Linked DNA regions of Homo sapiens: region 1 is linked to region 2. Evidence: fine-mapped expression QTL. A gene starts in region 2. The other region holds a variant in brackets. All regions are shown on one strand. Distances are from middle to middle. Region 1 overlaps RNF168 (ring finger protein 168). Region 2 holds the start of RNF168 (ring finger protein 168).

What was found. PIP is the estimated chance that this variant, and not a neighbour inherited with it, causes the effect.
Region 1: its variant is the best candidate, but not a certain one, in a credible set for the expression of RNF168 in whole blood (INTERVAL, PIP 0.75).

What each region holds. Positions count from the first base shown.
Region 1 is chr3:196,470,779-196,476,222 of GRCh38, reverse strand. It overlaps RNF168 (ring finger protein 168), which reads left to right. Exons shown (of 6, transcript NM_152617.4): 5 at 911-992; 6 at 3,451-5,444. The coding sequence ends at 4,404. Among named protein-coding and RNA genes, the nearest start is that of RNF168, 30 kb to the left of the region's middle. The variant TG/G (reference allele first, on the strand shown) is at 2,385.
Region 2 is chr3:196,501,673-196,506,672 of GRCh38, reverse strand. It overlaps RNF168 (ring finger protein 168), which reads left to right and starts at 2,905. Exons shown (of 6, transcript NM_152617.4): 1 at 2,905-3,800. The coding sequence starts at 3,500. It overlaps LOC105374306 (a long non-coding RNA gene), which reads left to right and starts at 4,621. Exons shown (of 2, transcript XR_924896.3): 1 at 4,621-5,000. LOC105374307 (a long non-coding RNA gene) reads right to left here and starts at 1,321. Exons shown (of 3, transcript XR_924897.3): 1 at 462-1,321; 2 at 242-346. RefSeq lists a silencer at 2,656-2,955 and enhancers at 3,576-3,665, 3,706-3,775, 3,427-4,110, 4,111-4,795.

The DNA.
Region 1 (5,444 bases), 31 kb after region 2:
GTCTTGCATTGTTTTGATGCTATCTGCTTTTTTAAGCTTTTTTCAAGAATTAAGAAATATTTACGCTGGGCGCAGTGGCTCACGGCTGTAATCCCAGCACTTTGGGAGGCTGAGACAGGCGGATCACCTGAGCGTCAGGAGTTCGAGACCAGCCTGACCAACATGGTGAAACCCGTCTCTACTAAAAATACAAAAATTAGCCGGGCGTGGTGGCGGGCGCCTGTAATCCCAGCTACTCAGGAGGCTAAGGCAGAAAAATCGCTTAAACCCGGGAGGCGGAGGTTGCAGTGAGCTGAGATCGCGCCACTGCACTCCAGCCTGGGCGACAGAGGGAGACTCCGTCTCAAAAAAAAGAAAAGAAAAAAAAATATTTAGCCGGGCTCAGTGGCTCACGCCTGTAATCCCAGCACTTTGGGAGGCCAAGGCAGGCGGATCACGAGGTCAGGAGATCGAGACCATCCTGGCTAACACGGTGAAACCTCGTCTCTACTAAAAATACAAAATATTAGCCGGGCGTGGTGGTGGGCGCCTGTAGTCCCAGCTACTTGGGAGGCTGAGGCAGGAGAATGGCGTGAACTCGGGAGGCGGAGCTTGCAGTGAGCGGAGATCACACCACTGCACTCCAGCCTGGGTGACAGAGCGAGACTCTATCTCAAAAAAAAAAAAAAAAGAAAAAATATTTAGATTTGACTTTTACTTCCTTTTCTGTTTTTCACTAAAATATCAATACTCAATCATTTAAGTTTTGTCCTGGAATTGACCAAAATATCTGAAGCACGGAAATGAGATACACTCTGATAAAACAGCCAAGCAGCAAACCAGACAACCTTCGGTATAAATAGCTTTATTATGTTGGGTACATACCATCTGTCTTTGAAAGCATTGAAACTTTGGTAAACTTTTCTTTTAGGTATTTGACACCGAAATCTCAGTTTGGGTCAGCCTCACACTCTGAAGCTGTACAAGAAGTCAGGAAAGACTCCGTATCTAAGGTATGTTGATACTGAAGATGTTCTGAGTTTTGCTGGTTCATTAATGCTGTAGATTAGTGCTATCCATAGTTTTCTACCTTTTAACAAAAGCCCCTATAGTTAATCAAACACCCTGTCTGAGTCCTCTTAGGCTCACCTAGAGAAAAAGCACTTTTTCTCCAAAGGAAACTACAATTTTTTAAATAAACATACTACAAAAAGCAAAGTTTTTCTCTAAGAGAGTGAATATTTTCGCCTTTGCAGTTAGTGTGATCTGTGTCACAGCTTCTCAGCTACGCTGGTGTAGTGTGAAAGCATCTATAGATAATATGTAAACACATCAGCTTGAATGCATTCCAGTAAAACTTTGTTTACAAAAACAGGCAGGAGGCTGGATTTGGTCCATGAGCCATAGATTACTGATCCTTGACCTATGTAATCCAAACTCACAAAACTGAATAGGTTATACCTGGCACCAGCTTCACTTAGAATGTTACAAGATGGAGCTGAATGCGGTGGCTCACGCCTGTAATCCCAGCACTTTGGGAGACTGAGGCAGGTGGATTATCTGAGGTCAGGGGTTCGAGATCAGCCTGACCAACATGGAGAAACCCCATCTCTACAAAAAAATACAAAATTAGCCGGGTGTGGTGGCGCATGCCTGTAATCCCAGCTACTTGGGAGGCTGAGGCAGGAGAATTGCTTGAACCCGGGAGGTAGAGGTTGCGGTGAGCTGAGATCGTGCCGTTGCCCTCCAGCCTGGACAACAAGAGTGAAACTCTGTTTCAAAAAAAAAAAAAAAAAGAATATTACAAGATGGGAGGCCAAGCACGGTGGCTCAGGCCTGTAATCCTAGCACTTTGAGAGGCTGAGGCAGGCAGAAAGTTGGGAGTTCGAGACCAGCCTGGCCAATGTGGTGAAACCCCATCTCTACTAAAAATACCAAAAAAAAAAAAAAAATTAGCCAGGTGTGGCACATACCTGTAGTCCCTGCTACTCAGGAGGCTGAGGCAGGAGTATTGCTTGAACCCGGAAGGCGGAGGTTGCAGTGAGCTGAGATGTCGCCATTGCACTCCAGCCTGGATGACAGAGTGAGACTCCACCTCAAAAAAAAAAAAAAAAAAAAATTGCAAGATGAGAAAAAGTATGCTAGTAAGGCAGCATCAGGCATGTGTGTTCAGCAGGAGTCCTCAGCAGCAGAGCTCCAAGGTGATAGCCTGGAAAAAGGCCACACAAGTGAGTGTATTAACTACTTTGAGACCACATGCCCTGTAAGGGTCAATTATTTCTTATAACAAACAATGGGTCTAGCTTCCAGGGGTCTTGGTGAGAAATACACCCAGTCAAGTTACTTATAGAAGTAACTTATAGAAGTCCCAAGCTTTATCTTCCAAACACTAGGTATTTTTTTTT[TG/G]CTTGTTTGTTTTGTTTTGTTTATTTTTTGAGAGAGAATCCATCGTCCAGGCTGGAGTACAGTGGATGCTCGGTGCATCCTCAGCTTCCCTGGTAGCTGGGACTACAGGCTTATACCCCCACGCCCGGCTAATTTTTGTATTTTTAGTAGAGATGGGGTTTCATCATGTTGGCCAGGCTGGTCTCAAACTCCTGACCTCAGGTGAGCTGTCCGCCTCAGCCTCCGGAAGTGCTGTGATTACAGGCATGAGCCACCGTGCCCAGCCATGTTACAGATATCTTTAAATATCATTTATACTTATCTCTACATTGGTATTAGACTGCAGTTGTGCCTTGTGGCAAAACAGAGAGTGGGTGTACTACATCAGGGGTGACACAGATAATTGGGTATTATGAGTTATTAGACTGGCTGGTAGATCCTATTATTTACTGTATTATAGATGCACATTATTACCTCACATTTTTTTGAACCTTTTAATGATTGTGTTTACAACATAAATTGTTCCTTTTGTAAAGCTACTGTATATCTTAATTTTTTAGTTAAAAACATTATTCTCAGAAGTGGTCTGTAAGCTTCACCTAAATGCCAAAAGGAGGGTCCACGGTAGAGAAAAGAGTTAAAAACCCCTATGCTGGCAGACCTTTGTAAGGTGAAAGAAGGTCAGGTCCTGATACCAGCTATTGGCCATATTTGGAATCTAGTCTGTGGGTTTTAATCTGTAGGTTTTCATGGGAGTGAAAATGAAGTAATAGCTTAATCTAAATTTGCCCATGAAATAAAAATACTATTAAGAATAAATATACACCTATTTGGGAGGCTGAGGCAGGAGAATCACTTGAACCTGGGAGGTGAAGGTTGCAGTGAGCTGAGACCGCGCCACTGCACTCCAGCCTGGGCGACAGAGCAAGACTCTGAAAAAAAAAGAAAAGAAAGAAAGAAATATATACCTTATTAGTAATAATAATGTATAGTGACAGTCCAGCTGTAGTATCAGTGTAATTAGACTTACATCTTATGATTTGATATTTTCCCCTGGTTCACTCAGTCTTTTTCTGTTTTCTACAGGACATTGACAGTAGTGATAGGAAAAGCCCAACAGGGCAAGACACAGAAATAGAAGATATGCCGACACTTTCTCCACAGATATCCCTTGGAGTTGGAGAACAAGGTGCAGATTCTTCAATAGAGTCCCCTATGCCATGGTTATGTGCCTGTGGTGCCGAATGGTACCATGAAGGAAACGTCAAAACAAGACCAAGCAATCATGGGAAAGAGTTATGTGTCTTAAGTCACGAGCGACCTAAAACCAGAGTTCCCTACTCGAAAGAAACTGCAGTTATGCCTTGTGGCAGAACAGAAAGTGGGTGCGCCCCCACATCAGGGGTGACACAGACAAATGGAAACAACACAGGTGAGACAGAAAATGAAGAGTCGTGCCTACTGATCAGTAAGGAGATTTCCAAAAGAAAAAACCAAGAATCTTCCTTTGAAGCAGTCAAGGATCCATGCTTTTCTGCAAAAAGAAGAAAAGTGTCCCCCGAATCTTCCCCAGATCAAGAGGAAACAGAAATAAACTTTACCCAAAAACTGATAGATTTGGAGCATCTACTGTTTGAGAGACATAAACAAGAAGAACAGGACAGGTTATTGGCATTACAACTTCAGAAGGAGGTGGATAAAGAGCAAATGGTGCCAAACCGGCAAAAAGGATCCCCAGATGAGTATCACTTACGCGCTACATCCTCCCCTCCAGACAAAGTGCTAAATGGACAGAGGAAGAATCCCAAAGATGGGAACTTCAAAAGGCAAACTCACACAAAGCATCCAACACCAGAGAGAGGCTCAAGGGACAAAAATAGGCAAGTGTCTTTAAAGATGCAGTTGAAGCAGTCAGTTAATAGAAGAAAGATGCCAAATTCTACTAGAGATCACTGTAAGGTATCCAAAAGTGCTCACTCCCTACAGCCTAGCATTTCACAGAAAAGTGTTTTTCAGATGTTTCAGAGATGCACAAAGTAAGGCCTGGTAAAGGGAGTGCTTTGTGATCTAGTAAAGCTGGAATGTGAAGCTCTTTCCTATCATGGAATCTTCATCCATGTGTCATTCATGCTGCTCTCTAGGCACACTCATTGTCCTTAATGAAGGTCTGTGTGATTGTAAGGACTGCATAGACACATGAGCTTCTGCACAGCTCAGCGGTAAGCAGGGGTCCCCTGTCGTTTCCCTTCTTAATAACAGATGTGTATTAAGCTTTACAATTCTTAGAGATATCTTAAGCTTTGGCCAACTCCAGGAAATCTTCAAGTGCCATTGTCTTTCCAAAAACTGCATGTTTTATGGCCTTTGCTCACCTTTTTGTCGTGACTGGTAATCAAAGCAAGATTATACTATTCTGAGTGATTAAGGAACCCATGCAGGGTTTAAAATCCATTTTCTTGCTATTGTCCAATGTTTACAGAGTACTCAAAAGGTTTTCCTAAAGTAATCTAATTTCCATCTCCAATTTAATTCAATTTTCAGCATTGTAGCATTTCCTTTGGTGTTTGTTTTTTTTTTTTAGACGGAGTTTCAAAATTTGGATTCATATTCATATGTGGGAAATCCCAGATTTTTTTTTTTTTTTTTTTTTTTTTTTTTTTTTGGAGACAGAGTCTTGCTCTGTCACGCAGGCTGGTGTGCAATGGCGCGATCTCAGCTCACTGCAACCTCCGCCTCCCGAGTTCAAGCGATTCTTCTGCCTCAGCCTCCCGAGTAGCTGGGATCATAGGCATGTGCCACTACACCCAGCTACCCAGCTAATTTTTTTTTTTTTTTGTACTTTTAGTAGAGATGGGATTTCACCATGTTGGCCAGGCTGGTCTTGAACTCCTGTCCTCAGGTGATCCACCTGCTTCGGCCTCCCAGAGTGCTGGGATTATAGGCGTGAGCCACCACGCCCGGCCTGTTTCCTTTGGTTTAAAGTGGATTCGAATCAGTGTTAAATCAGAAAATCAGGGTTTTCTAGGAAATTGGGAATTAGTTGCCAGAAAGGAAACTGAACTATGCAGAAGGAGTTAAGA
Region 2 (5,000 bases):
TATACCAGAAAGGAGATTCTTACATCTTGACCATTTATTTATAATATTTATCGAATACCAAATGCCATGTACTAGGTACTGTGGATAACAGAAACATTAAAAATGTGGATCCTGCCCTCGAGGTAAAGATTAAGTGCCGATGCTTTATTTGGGAGGTACAAATTCAGGACAGCCAGAGTGAAGAAAGCTGGAAGGAAGTTAGGTAGAGAAGGATGTGAAGTAATACATGGTGATGTGTTACCTTGCTGTCCCCTCCTTGAAAATGAGCCACAAGAGACACAGCAGCTTTTTCAGCAGGCACACTCCCTCAGTCTTGCCTGTCTCCAGACACACTGGAGAAACCATCCTTGGAAGGAAGAAGAAAAGGGAATTTAAGTATTGTGCTCGGTCAGTCCACTGGTTTCAATTGGTGAAAGTTACTCCATGGGGAGTGACCCCCCCACCCTCCCAGCATGCATTACCGAGGCCCTAGCAGCCTCTGAGAAGTCAGCTCCTGCATTGTTCAGAAGTGGCAGGAGAAGCCAGAGATTCCGGAAATGCAACTGGTGAGCCCCAAAAAGAGCAAGTGATTATGGGTACAGAAAGCAAACAAAGTGAAGGAAATCTGAGGAAGTACATGAAATATATCCATTACACAAGACATAAGCACCTGAAGATAGAAATCAAAATACAGGAGTTCAATAGTAAAACTGCAATAAAAATCAGTATCACTGGGCAATATATGACTGGGTGAGTTTAGAAAAGGGGCATTACTGGTGGTGGGGAGTGCATTAAATTGCACATAAAAGTGCACTCTGGAAGAAGTGAATTAATTTTTTTTTTTTTCGAGACGGAGTCTTGCTCTGTCAACCCAGGCTGGAGTGCAGTGGTGCAATCTGGCCTCACTGCAACCTCTGCCTCCCGGGTTCAAGCAATTCTTCTGCCTCAGCCTCCCGACTAGCTGGGATTACAGGCACCTGCCACCATGCCCAGCTAATTTTTGTATTTTTAGTAGAGACTGAGTTTCAACATGTTGGTCAGGCTGGTCTCGAACTCCTGACCTTGTGATCCGCCCTCCTTGGCCTCCCAAAGTGCTGGGATTACAGGCATGAGCCACCGTGCCTGGCCCAACTGCATTAAATTGGTGTTTGAAGTAGGCACAGCCACAAAGCAACCCATTTAGGATGAACCGAGAAAGCAATGTCATGAAAGCAAAACGTTTGGATGACAGAGAATAAATCATAGTTGCATGTTTAAAAGAATAATGGGAGATTCGATGGGAAAAGCAGGTTGTGGACATATTAGGAAGCCTGAAGGCCAGGTGCAGTGGCTCACGCCTGTAATCCCAGCACTTTGGAAGGCCAAGGCCGGTGGATCACCTGAGGTCAGGAGTTCGAGACCAGCATGGCCAACATGGTGAAACCCCATCTCTACTAAGAATACAAAAATTTGCCAGGCGTGGTATTACAATGCACGTGGTATTACAAGGCACGCGCCTGTAATTGCAGCTACTCGGGAGGCTGAGGCATGAGAATCGCTTGAACCCAGGAGGTGGAGGTTGCAGTAAGCTGAGATCAAACCACTGCACTCCAACCTGGGCAACAGAATGAGGAGCCATCTCAAAAAAACAAACAAACGAACAAAAAACAAGCCTGAAATTCCAAGCTAAGGTACTGTTACTGTAGACAACCAGATGACAGTCCCAGGTTTCTTTTTTTTTTCTTTTTTTTGAGACAGGGTCTTGCCCTGTCACCCAGGCTGGGGTGCAGTGGTACGATCACTGTTCACTGCAGCCTTGACCTCCTGGGCTCAAGTGATCCTCCCACCTCAGCCACCAGAGTAGCTGAGAGTATAAGTGTGAGCCAGCACACCGAGTTAATTTTTTTATTTTTTGTAGAGACAGGGTCTCACTATGTTGCCCAGGCTGGACCTGAACTCCTGGGCTCCACTGATCTTCCCGCCTTGGCCTTCCAAAGTGCTGGGACTACAGGTGTGAGCTATCACAGACAATAACAGGTTTCTGAACCCACATTGAAATGAAAGTTCCCAAAGACTTCTACCAACGACCGATGTCTCCTCGTTGTTCTCAACCTGGAAACCATCCCCTACCCAGCCTGAATGCTCTCAGCAGCCTCAAAACAACTTAAAGGCTGCTTTCACGCACAGTGATTTTCTTTTCTCTTCCTTCACACTGATTGATTCCCTCAAAAAATGCAGGTCCGGAGCTGGCTATGGAGTTGCAAGCTCTAGACCCAGCTACTCCAGAGGCTGAGGCGAAAGAATCCCTGGAACCCTGGAGTTGTAGTCCAGCCTGGATAAAACAGTGAGACCCCAATTCTTTTATCTATTTATTTATTTGTATTTTTTGAGGTGGAATTTTGCTCTGTCCCCCAGGCTGGAGTGCAGTGGCACAATCTCGGCTCACTGCAGCCTCTGCCTCCCAGGTTTAGCGATTCTCCTGTCTCAGCCTCCTGAGTAGCTGGAATTGCAGGAGCTTGTCACAATGCCCAGCTAATTTTTGTATTTTTAGTAAGGACGGGGGTTTCACCATGTTGGCCAGGCTGGTCTTGAACTCCTGACCTCAGGTGATCCGCCCGCCTCGGCCTCCCGAAGTGCTGGGATTACAGGCGTGAGCCACCGCACCCGGCCTTGTTTGGCTGTTGATTTTGTTTTGAGGTTTCCCTTTTTCTACCCAGAAACCAAGAAACCAGGGGTGTCTGAGGCCTCGCAGAAATCTCAGGGAAAGGTCAGGCTCCACCCAGGCTGCACTAGGCGGGGCTGCGACGCCAGGGCGGGACCGTCTCCGGCTGGGAGGGAGGGCGGGCGGCGCGCAGACCCCGGAAGTCCCGCCCCGGGAACGTTCGCCCTTGGGCAGTTTTCTGGGTGGGAAGTGCGATTTTGGCGGGCGGTTGTGACGTTGCTAGCGCTTGTCCGGTGGCTGCTGCGCTGCCGCAACGAATAGGGTTTCTGGCTGCGTAGGAGGGACGGGGGCGCGGAGCTCTGGGAAACTGCGCCAGGCGCCCGAAAGGTGAACACGGGAGTCGCGCGTCTCCCCCGCAGCAGCGGTAAAGCGGAAGTTATGCTGCAGCCGGAGCCCGGGCTTCCTCCCGGAGCCGCGTCCCGGGGCCCGGCTGCCCCGAGCTGAGCGGAGCATCCTTTCCGGGTGAGGGGAGGAGAGGACTTGGCGCGTTCCCCTCGCTGCCCCGGGAGCCGCAGCCGCGGTGTTCATGCCGCGGAGCAGCCAGGCTCCTCCGACGAAAACCTGCATTTATTTGCTGGCGGGACGTTTGCCTTGAAAATGGACAAAGACGCCGCCCTCCGGGGTATTCCTGTTTGCCTGACCCTGAGAGCGCCTTTTTGCTTCAAGACGTGTTGGATGCTCCTGTTCTCCGAATTCTGATACGCTTCTGGGCATAATACTGAAACACAAAACTGCTTTTGCTCTCTCTGTGGTTGGCCGAAAATAGGATTCTTTTTCGTGCAGGTGTCGTTGTTTAGTCGGCTTTACTAACATATTGAAATGGCTCTACCCAAAGACGCCATCCCCTCGCTGTCCGAGTGCCAGTGCGGGATCTGCATGGAAATCCTCGTGGAGCCCGTCACCCTCCCGTGTAACCACACGCTGTGTAAACCGTGCTTCCAGTCGACCGTCGAAAAGGCGAGTTTATGCTGTCCCTTCTGTCGCCGCCGGGTATCGTCGTGGACTCGGTACCATACCCGAAGAAATTCTCTCGTCAACGTGGAACTGTGGACGATAATTCAAAAACACTATCCCAGGGAGTGCAAGCTTAGAGCGTCTGGCCAAGAATCAGAGGAAGTGGGTGAGTAAACCATGGCGTGTTTGTTGGCCAAAAGCCGCAAGTCTTTGAAAAGGTGAATCATCACTTTTCCATTTAAAAAGTAAAAACAAACCAAAAAACCCGACTAGTATTTGTCTAAATAGTTCTCAGAGGTTAGGGGGTTTATGGGTCCCCAAATGTCGATGGATTATAAAGTCAAGGGCAAGATTTTGTCCATTGTCAAAATGCCCGCGCTGTGTTCGATGGGTGTTTGTTGTGTTAAAAATTAAAGAATTGCCCGTCTGGAGCCTTCTTTTTTTTTTTTTTGAGACAGGATCTCGCTCCGTCCTCCAGGCTGGAGTGCAGTGGCGCGATCTCGGCTCCCTGCAACCTCCGCCTCCCGGTTTCAAGCGATTCTCCTGCCTCAGCCTCCCGAGTAGCTGGGGTTACACGCGTGCACCATCACGCCCGGGGAATTTTTCTGTTTTTTAGTAGAGACGGGATTTCACCATGTTGGCCAGGCTGATCTCAAACTCCTGACCTCAAGGGATCCGCCCGCCTCGGCCTGCCAAAATGCTGGGATTACAGGCTTGAGCCACCGCGCCCGGCCTCTGATTTACTTATCTATACATCTCCATTCATTTAATTCTTGATTCTCCTAATCATGCGACGAGGCTAAAGTCGCTTTTTTATCACTCAACCCTGCACCCGGTAGACTCAGGAGCCCCAAACTGAACCCTTGACTCTTTCCTCCACTAATGTGAGCAATAAGCCGGGCGGTGGTTCCTGTCTGGGCTTAGGATATGGTGTCTCCGTTCTCTCGTGGACAGGTCTTTTTTTTTTTTTTTTTTTTTTTTTTTCTAATTTTTTTTGGTCACAGTTATATGTGTACCTGCCTTTTAAACATACGTTTATTTTATTGTAAAAAAATGCCATTTTAAACATTTTTAAACAATAGTTAAAAGAAAAAGCTTTATTCAAATGCTCGCAGACCATACAATTCACCTACTAAAAGTGTGCGGTTGGCCGGGAGCGATGGCTCACAGCTGTAATCCCAGCGCTTTGGGAGGCGGAGGTGGGAGGATCTCTTGAACCCAGGAGTTGAGGCCGGTCTGGGTAACATAAATTCAGTAAAATGTTTAAAAGTGTGCAATTTAATGGTTTTTGGTATATTGCGTTATTTTTAAAATATTGTCCAAAATGTATATAACAAACTGACATTTTAACCATTTTTAAGTACAA